Homo sapiens: one gene and its partner. The protein of the gene in region 1 purifies or fractionates together with the protein of each later gene. This does not show direct contact. Each region holds a gene or a part of one and is shown in the gene's direction. Other genes may lie near its edges.

Region 1 (5,300 bases):
GAAATGACAATGCAAAAAACAAAGAGGAGGGTAAATTTAGATGATATTAACATAGTTTTAACAAGACCATTGTGCCATTTGGAATAATGGATTTTCTGGTACAAAAGTAAGTTTTCTGAATTACATTCAAAAGCGATTGTATGCTAAGTAAATTCCTTCAAAACTTGGATCTTTAAAAGTTAAGATAATTGCAAAATGTTATTAGACTATGATGTAGCTCAACAAATGATAGAAATTTGGCAGAAATTATACTAGTAACTTAAGAATGAGGCTGCTACCTTTACAGTGGCATAAGGAAAAATAGGGAAATGTGTCCTAGGGATGTTACACAAAACCATAGTAAAAACCTAGAAATTGGGAGTTAGAAGCTGCTTTGTGTGTTTTTTGTTTTCTGGTTTTTTTTTTTTTTTTTTTTTTGTTTTTGTTTTTTTTTTTGAGACGGAGTCTCCTCTCTTGCCCAGGCTGGAGTGCAGTCACGTGATCTCCGCTGACTGCAAGCTCCGCCTCCCGGGTTCACGCCATTTTCCTGCCTCAGCTTCCCAAGTAGCTGGGACTACAGGTGCCGGCCACTACCCCTGGCTAATTTTTTGTATTTTTAGTAGAGCCGGGGTTTCACCGTGTTAGCCAGGATGGTCTCAATCTCCTGACCTCATGATCCACCCGCCTCGGCCTTCCAAAGTGCTGGGATTACAGGCGTGAGCCACCGCGCCCGGCCTAGAAGCTTCTTTATCATGACCAGGAGTTCCCACATGCAATTGATCATCAGAATTGCTTGGGGAATTCAGGATAATTGGAATCATTTCTGTCAAGAGTTTTCAGTGGTAATTCAAACCATTTAGGAACTTATGGGCTGGTCATGGTGGCTCACACGTGTAATCCCAGCACTTTGGGAGGCTGAGGCAGGCAGATTGCTTGAGGCCAGGAGTTCCAGACCAGCCTGGGCAACATGGTGAAAAGCCCGTCTCTACTAAAATTACAAATATTATCCGGGCATGGTGGTGCGTACCTGTTAGTCCCAGCTCCTCAGTGGGGGCTGAGGCAGGAGGATCACCTGAGCCTTGGGAGGTCAAGGCTGCATTGAGCTGTGATCCTGCTACTGCACTCCAGCCTGAGCTAGGGATTGCCACCCTGTCTCAAAGAAAAAGAACTTGTGGCAGAGTACTTAATGAGAAGTGTACTGGAATGGTGATTCCACATTTACTATAGTCATATGCTAAATTGTGCTTATTGGACTAGTGGATCACAAATATTGGCCATCCCATACCTACTAAACATTCTAGAACCCCTACTTTTCAGAAACTTCCCAAGTAATATAATAGAATGACTAGCTAGGTTTCGAAAGCAAGAATTAAAGACTTAATTCCCCAAGGCTGAAATCTGTACTGTCATCTTAGTAGTTTTCTGCATTAGCAAATCTAGATAAATAATGTGAGAATTGTTTTTTGTTGTTGTTGTTGTTTTGAGACGGAGGACGGAGTTTCACTCTTGTTACTCATACTGGAGTGCAGTGGCATGATCTGAGCTCACTGCAACCTCCGCCTCCTGGGTTCAATCGATTCTCCTGCCCCAGCCTCCCAAGTAGCTGGGATTACAGGCACCCGCCACCACGCCCAGCTAATTTTTTGTATTTTTAGTAGAGATGGGGTTTCACCATGTTGTCCAGGCTGGTCTTGAACTCCTGACCTCAGGTAATCCACCCGCTTCGGCCTCCCAAAGTGCTGGGATTACAGGCGTGAGCTAGTGCACCTGGCTGAAAATTGTTTTTGAGACAGGATCTTGCTTTGTTGCCCAGACTGTGTTGCAGTGGCACGATCAGAGTTCCCTGCAGCCTTGACCTCCTGGGCCAAGGAATCCTCCTGCCTCAGCCTCTGGAATAGTTGGGGCTACAGGCACACGCTACCATACCTGGCTAATTTTTGAAAAATTTTTTTGCTATGTTGTCCAGACTGTTCTTTAACTTCTGGGCTCCAGTGATCCTCCCACTTTGACCTCCCAAAGTGCTGGGATTACAGACATGAGCCACCGTGCCTGGCCCTGTTTTTGTTTTTTAAGATGAGGATTACTTACAAGCAAGCAGCCCTGATGCAGTGTTTACTTTTGTGTGTGTTCTTTTTCTGGTGTTTACCCAGATCCGTTTCCCCCCTTTAAAAAGAAAGAAAAACCACGGTTGTAGTTCTGTAACACTGTCCTCTCCTTCATTCTTTTTCTGGTTCTTGTCTAACCTTCTACATACAGGTAATTCCAATTTTCTGTTCATATCTCTCTTCATTTCTTTTCAGTGTAATGTAGAAGCTCTCAGAGCTTTGCCTGTGACATCTGTGCAGAAGAATTCCTATTGATATCTTTAGACCTCACTTCTCCAGAGCTTTTCCTGATTTTTCTTCTGCCTGCCCGTGTCTTCCCTGGTATATCTTACTGGCTTCCCCAGTTTGACATGTTGTAAATGGAATTATTCCTTACGTGAAGGCCTTACCCCAACTTTCTCTCCTGTTGTTCCTATTTCTTTTCATCATAATTGGCTTTAGTTTGACATTTTCTCTTTCTCCATTTTATAGGCAGTCAATTTATAAACCCCAATGAATTCTGGTTGTGTAGCATCTTTCCCATCTAGGCCAGGGGTTCTCAAAATTTTATATGCATCATAATCAGCTGGAGGTACTGTGAAACAGTTAGTTGTGCCCCACCTTCTAGAGTTTCTGATTCAATGGGTCTGGAGTAGATGTGAGAATTTGCGTTTCTAACAAGTTCCCAGATGATGTGGATGCCCTTGACCCAGTATGGAGTACAGAATGCCTTAAGACGGCATTCAGAACACTAAATAGTCAGTTTTAATCGGCCTTCTCTCCCACTGTGCTTTCCCATATCAGAAGTCAGATTTGGACTTCAGCATACTTGTTACTTAGTAGCTGTGTGATCTTAGGCAAATTGTTTAATTTTCTTTCTTTTATTTATTTTTTTCTTTTTTGAGACAGGAAGTAGTCTTTCTCTGTCACCCAGGCTGGAGTGCAGTAACACGATCTCTGCTCACTGCAGCCTCCGCCTTTCGGGTTCAAGCGATTCTTGTGCCTCAGCCTCCCAAGTAGCTGGGATTAGCCAGCCGCCGGTTTTTTTTGTTTTGTTTGTTTTTTGAGACAGAGTCTTGCTCTTTCGCCCAGGCTGGAGTGCAGTGGCACCGTCTTGGCTCACTGCAACCTCTGCCTCCTGGGTTCAAGCAGTTCTCCTGTCGCAGCCTCCTGAGTAGCTAGGACTACAGGCACCGCCACCACACCCGGCTAATTTTTGTATTTTTAGTAGAGACCGGGTTTCATCATGTTGGTCAGGCTGGTCTCGAATTCCTGACCTCAATTAATCCACCCTCTTCGGCCTCCCAAAGTGCTGGGATTACAGGTGTGAGCCACCATGCCTGGCCCAGCTGCAGGTTTTTTGAGGTCAGGAATCATGTCTTAATTGTCTTTGTACTTCCATCGCGTTTGGAGCGATGTGTCCATTGATAGGCGGTTAGTAAATGTTTGAAAAATTGGTTTATGTTATTTACTCTTCTTTCCCTTTTTTCATTCTTTTCAATTTCTTTGCACCCTTTCCCCTTCTTTCCTTTTTAATGAAAGTTTTAGTAAGCAAAATTATTAGCATACCCAACAATGGTTTGCTTTCCCTCCAACCTGTTGGTAGTGAGTGAGTAGTTAATTCACATTTTATTCCATAAAACGTTTTACTTTTTCTCCAGAGTAATTAAGTAGAAAATATGGCTCTTGGCCAGGCACGGTGGCTCTTGCCTGTAATCTCTGCACGTTGGGAGGCTGAGGTGGGTGGATAATTTGAGGCCAGGCGTTCGAGACCAGCCTGGCCAACATGGTGAAATCCCGTCTCTACTAAAAATACGAAAATCAGCCAGGCATGGTGGCAGGTTCTTGTAGTCCCAGCTACTCGGGAGGCTGAGGCATGAGAATCGCTTGAATCCGAGAGCCAGAGGTTGCAGTGAGCCAAGATCGCACCACTCCATTCTAGCCTGGGCGAAAGAGTGAGACTCTATTTATAAAAAAAGAAAGAAAGAAAAGACCCTTAATGACTTTTTCCCCTCTCTTAAAACCTGGTTGTATTAGTGACTTTGACATACATGTATATTGTTGACTTCGCCGTCTCCTGATGTTACTAATTTGAACAGTGACTATATATTGCCGTTACAGACCAGAAGGGAAAGATTTCAGCATTCATCGACTTGTCCTGGGGACACACACATCGGATGAACAAAACCATCTTGTTATAGCCAGTGTGCAGCTCCCTAATGATGATGCTCAGTTTGATGCGTCACACTACGACAGTGAGAAAGGAGGTAGGAATCTTAAAGGTGAAAGAAGTAAAGATGTGTGGGTCATATCTGTTATGTGCACTTTGATAAAGTAAACTCTGACTTTAGAAACAATATTTAAGGTTGAGGGAAAGCCTGAGTTTGCAATGGTAGGTATTTATATTTATATTAGAGTTTTAGGTATCAGAAGAAATACTTAACACATCCTTGGTTCTGTACCTTCACAATAAACTTTTCTCAGCTGGTGCTGGTGGGGAGGATTTCTGCAATTGAAAGAAGCAAAAATATATATTATTGCTGTACATTCTTGATTTTTTATTTTTTTACTCAGTCTCGCTCTATTGCCTAGGTTGGAGTGTAGTGGCACGATCTTCTCTCACTGCAACCTCCGCCTCCCGGGTTCAAGCGATTCTTCTGCCTCATCCTCCTGAGTAGCTGGGATTACAGGCGCCCGCCACCACGCCTAGTTAATTTTTGTATTTTTAGTGGAGACAGGGTTTCACCAAGTTGGCCAGGCTGGTCTTGAACTCCTGACCTCAGGTGATCCACCCACCTCAGCCTCTCAGAGTGCTGGAATTACAGGCGTGAGCCACTGCACCCATCCATATTGCTATACATTCTTAACACGGGAGATAACTACCCCTAAGGAGGTGAAAATTGGTTTGTGTATGTGAGTAGGTGTAAATAATCTTACTGGTTGATTGTTTAAAGCACAGATATGCACAGAGGACATAGGATATCTATGGTATTAAAATTTCATGGGACTGGTGGGGAGGGAATAGTTCTTAAAAGAGTTCTTAGAGGAGCAATAGTAAAAAAAAAAAAAAGGTTGAGAAACACTAACTTAAATTACCCTTTCTAGGTTTAAAGTGGTAGAAATGACTTAACCATGGCACTCTCTATGTGTATAGAAACTAAGTTCCAATGAGTTGTTTAATTATATCCTGTTTTTAGGCCATAACCTAAGGGTTTAACTGCTCATGAAATGCTTAAA
Region 2 (4,888 bases), on another chromosome or scaffold:
GGATATTGATTTTAAAAGTAATAAATTACAACATGAGATACCACTTGACTTAGTATGGCTGTTTACATATCTGCTATTCGTGAACTCGGACTCTGGGCAATCATCTTTTTCTCCTGATATAAACTTTTATTTTTCTTCCTTGCTTATAGAGAATGATTTTAACTGATCATTGTACTAATAGGAAGGAGTCCAGGTCATCCTGAGAAGAGTTCGCTTGTCCAGAGTCCAAGATGCAGATTTGTTGGATTTCTGTAAGCCACTCGAAGCCACATATTCATTTCTGATGACAGCTTTACACTTGTGCTGGAAGAACACCCACTGTGACAACTGCTGCCTATGTTTAGTCTGTCCAGGAGCTCTACCAACTAGCATGTTTGCAGAAAAACCTACACTGTTCTTGTTAGCAGCTATGTAAATATTAGATCTTTCTGAGTTTCTCTTCTCAGATCTGCCAATTTCTTTGGGGCAAATTGTATCCTGCAGTAGCCTCAATTTACCCTTTGAAATGAGGGATTAAAGGTTTTAGACATTCTTTGGGTTATCTGAAACACAATTCTTTTTGGATCAGTAATGTTTTATATATGTCCACTTTATGATGTTTAAAATTTTATTCCCCCTATGTATTAGTTTCCTGTGGCTGCTATAACAAATTACCACAGACTTGGTGGTTTAAAACAAGAGGAATTTATTCTTCTCAAAATTTTGGAGCCCAGAAGTCTGCAATCAAGATATTGAGGCCCCTCTGGAGGCTCTAGGAGAGAGACTGTTCTTTGCCTCTTTTAGCTTCTGATTATGGTCAGCATTCCTTGGCATATCTCTCTGTTCTGTTTTCACATTGTCTTCTCTTTTGAGTACTTGCATCAGAACTCTCCCTCTACCTGTGTATTATAAGGATACATATGATTGCAATTAAGAAACCACTTGGATGAACCAGGATAAATTTCTCCAATCCTATCTTTTAATTCAACCTGAGAGAGCAGATTTAAAATATATTTTATTCCTAAAGTGGCAGGTCCCTGAAAAAAAAATGTAGATTCATGTTTATTTTGAGACAGAGTCTCGCTTTGTCACCCAGTCTGGAGTGCATTGGTGTGATTTTGGCTCACTGCAACCTCCGCCTCCCAGGTTCAAGCTATTCTCCTGCCTCAGCCTCCTGAGTAGCTGGGATTACAGGTGCCTGCCACCGTGCCCGGCTAATTTATGTATTTTTGATAGAGACAGGATTTCACCAGTTTGCCAGGCTGGTCTAGAACCCTTGACATCAGGTGATCCGCCTGCCTCAGCCTCCCAAAGTGCTGGGATTACAGGCATAAGTCACCGCGCCCGGCCGGATTCATCTTTTAATCACATCTTTTGCTATATAAAATAACATTTACAGGTTCAAGGGATTAAGATAAGAATCTCTTTGGGGGAGGGCCATCATTCAGACCACTACACATTGGTTCCCTAACCTCTACCCAAATAGATTTGAGCTAATTCAGAAAAGAAAATGTTATTTTTAAAGAAACAGAGGCAAGTGAAAAAAGGCTCAGAAACCTGGGTTCTTGTCCTGCCTCTGCCATTATCTAATGGTGTAACCATGGGTGAGCCATTTGCCCTCTTTAGTCCTTAGTTTCTTTATCTTATAGGGAAGGAGTTGGATAAGTGATCGTTAACAAGCCTTCTAGACCTAAGACTTTATGAAGTGATTCCTAAGTCATCTTGGAGTTTGTTTTTTAAGTCAATAATTTAAAATGTGAATCAAAACATTACAAATTACAACATTTTGGGTGAGGGTAGTCCTGTTCTTGCCTAGGACTTGAAGGATGGAAGACTGAGCTGTTGGCTGACTGTCAACTCCTTGGGGTATTAACACAGGATAACTAACCTGTATTTGTTAGCTGTGTGCTTAAACCTTTCTGAAGAAAAGATTTTCTACAAGGGATGTAATAGACTAGCTGGAACATTTTCACTACATTTTTAGTGAGACTATAGACTGTGTAGCCTGAATTTTCTTTCCAGTAGTAGTAGTTCATCAAAATTAAACACTGACAGATTTTTTTCTACCTGAAACTAGGTCATAGAGTAAAAATTTTCACTTGCAGTCTTACTCTTCAGACTCACTGAATGCCTGTTCCATCCTGTTTCATTGCTAGGAAGGACACTAGATAAAGCCATGAGCTTGAGATGGTGTACTTGAAAGGACCGTTTCAAGATCAGGTTTTATAACACACTCATTATTTATTTCTTCTGTGGAGAGGAGAAACCAAATTGGATTCAAGTATTTTTCTGATAGTAATCTATGTTTCTTAGAATAAAGCAAGTTCATATCTGAGCCAGAGGGCATAATTATGTCAGAATAAAATATAATTATGTCGGAATAAAATGCCCTGTACTAAAGAGGTCAACTAACAGGCTGGGAAATCTTAAGTTTTGTTTTTAAGACAAATCCTTGAACTCTCTGTGCCTCGTTTCTCATCCCTAAATCTGTGCAACTCACCTCACAGGGAGTTGTGGAGGGTAATATACTGCTAATTTGTTCAGTGTTTCACAACAATAAATTATGCCTAAGATCTGATAAAACATAGCAAACCTCATTTATGTAAGTAGAGACAAGCATGGATAAGACTTACAGATAATAAAGAAAATTCATTAAAATTTTTTTAACTTCCTTGATTATTAAACATTTTTCCTTCTGTTTCCTATATATTTTCCAAAGTATTTTCCTATTGTTTTTCCATAATAGACTTATGAGATAGGGCAAATAACAAACACCAGGTTATATAATAAATGAATAAATTCATCAAGCGGACATAACAATCCTAAATGTCCTAAAAGCTAATAATAAAGCTTCAACATACACAAAGGAAAACAGAAATGAAGTAACAAGCCAGGTGCAGTGGCTCACGCCTGTAATCCCAGCACTTTGGGAGGCTGAGGTGGGTGGATTACCTGAGGTCAGGAGTTCCAGATCAGCCTGGCCAACATGGTGAAACCCTGTCTACTAAAAATACAAAAATTATCTGGGCATGGTGGCGTGCGCCTGTAATCCCAGCTACTTGGGAGGCTGAGGCAGGAGAATCGCTTGAACCTGGGAGGTGGAGGTTGCAGTGAGCGGAGATCGCGCCACTGCACTCCAGCCTGGGTGACAGAGCAAGACTCCGTCTCAAAAAAAGAAAAGAAAAAGGAAATAACAGACATCTGCAATTATATTTGGAAATTTCAGTGCCTCTCAGTAATTGATAAAACAGGTAGATGAAATCAGTAAGGAAACGGAAGACTTGAACAACACTACCAACAACCTGATATAATTGACATTTATAGAATAGTACAAGCAACAGCAGAATACATGTGCTTTTCAGGTGCACATGGAACTTTTACACAGACAGTTTACCTTCTGGGTCAATAAGTCTCAAATTCAAAAGGATTCAATCATAAAGGTTTTTTAAAAAAATTTAAACGGGGTCTTGTTCTGTCACCCAAGCTGGAGTGCAGTGACACAATCAACTCACTGCAGCCTGAAACTCCTGGGCTCAAGTGATCCTCCTGCCTCAGCCTTCTGAAAAGCTGGGACCACTGGCATGTGCCACCATGCTCAGCCACCCACCCTTTTTTCTTTTTTTGTAGAGACAGGGTCTCGTTATGTTGCCCGGATTGGTGTCAGACCCCTGGGCTCAAGTGATCCTCTCATCTCAGCTTCCCAAAGTGCTGGGATTACAGGCATGAGCCACTGTGCTTGGCCAAGGTATGTTTATTTCCTGATCATAGTGCAATTAAATAAAAAATCAGTAACAAAGACATCAAGAAAAATCCCTAAATATTTTGAAATTACACAACACACTTCTAAGTAACCCACCTACAAAGAGGAAATTACAAAGAAAACTAATACTTGGAACTGAATGAAAATGAAAAGATGATATATCAAAACTTTTAGAATGAGGCTAGGTGCTGTGACTGATTCCTGTAAACTCAACGCTTTGAGAAGCTGAGGCGAGAGGATCACTTGAGCTCAGGAGTTCAAGACCAGCCTGGGCAACATAGTGAGACCTAGTCTCTAGAAAAAATTAAAAAGTATCCAGGAGTGGTGGTTTGCCAGTAGTCCCAGCTAGTTGGGAGGCTGAGGTGGGATGCTTACTGGAGCCTGGGAGATCAAGGCTGCAGTGAGCTATGATCCTGCCACTGCACTTGAGCCTGGGTGGCAGAGACCCTATCTCAAAAACAAAACAAAATTGTGGGATGCAGTTAAGGAAGTGCTTAAAGGGAAATTTATAGCATTAAGTACTTTAACAACAAAAGCAGGTCACTGACAGGTTTGGCCCTGTGAACCTAGAAAAAGAACAAATTAAATCCAAAATAAACAAGAAAATAGTAATGATAAAAGCAGCAATTAATGGGATATAGAACAATAGAGAATAGAAAAAAACGGAAAGTTCTTTGAAAAGATCAATAAAATTGATAAATCAGGAAAAAAGATACTAATTAACAATATTAGGAACTAAGGAATATCACTATTGATCCTACAGATAATAAGGGAATATTTTGAAAAACGATACGAATACATTCAATGTCTTAGTTGAAGTTAGTAACTTCCTTGAAGACAAACTACCAAAACTCACTTAAATACAGAACCTTGGGTGGGCATGGAGGCTTACACATGTAATCTCAACATTTTGGGAGGCCAAGAGTTCAAGACCAGCCCAGGAAACATAATGAGACCTCTCTACAGGCAAAAAGAAGAAAACGTCAGAACCTTACTAGCCCTATCTCTATTAAGGAAAAGGGATTTTTAGATAGAAATAATCCCACAAAGAAAACGCCAGGCCCAGGCCAAGCATGATGGCTCATGCCTGTAATCCCAGCACTTTGGGAGGCTGAGGTGGGTGGATCACGAGGTCAGGAGTTCAAGACC

The links. Proteins that work in one complex are often made in the same cells at the same time.
Region 2: the proteins of RBBP4 (region 1) and CBX5 purify together in Homo sapiens (affinity purification with mass spectrometry; 6 studies listed by BioGRID and IntAct, with this or other methods). This does not show direct contact.

Annotation. Positions count from the first base shown.
Region 1 is NC_000001.11:32,653,243-32,658,542, forward strand, and holds part of RBBP4 (histone-binding protein RBBP4), read left to right. Parts: intron 1-4,184; coding exon 4,185-4,330; intron 4,331-5,300. UniProt on the Homo sapiens protein: Core histone-binding subunit that may target chromatin assembly factors, chromatin remodeling factors and histone deacetylases to their histone substrates in a manner that is regulated by nucleosomal DNA.
Region 2 is NC_000012.12:54,269,603-54,274,490, reverse strand, and holds part of CBX5 (chromobox protein homolog 5), read left to right. Parts: intron 1-4,888. UniProt on the Homo sapiens protein: Component of heterochromatin that recognizes and binds histone H3 tails methylated at 'Lys-9' (H3K9me), leading to epigenetic repression. In contrast, it is excluded from chromatin when 'Tyr-41' of histone H3 is phosphorylated (H3Y41ph).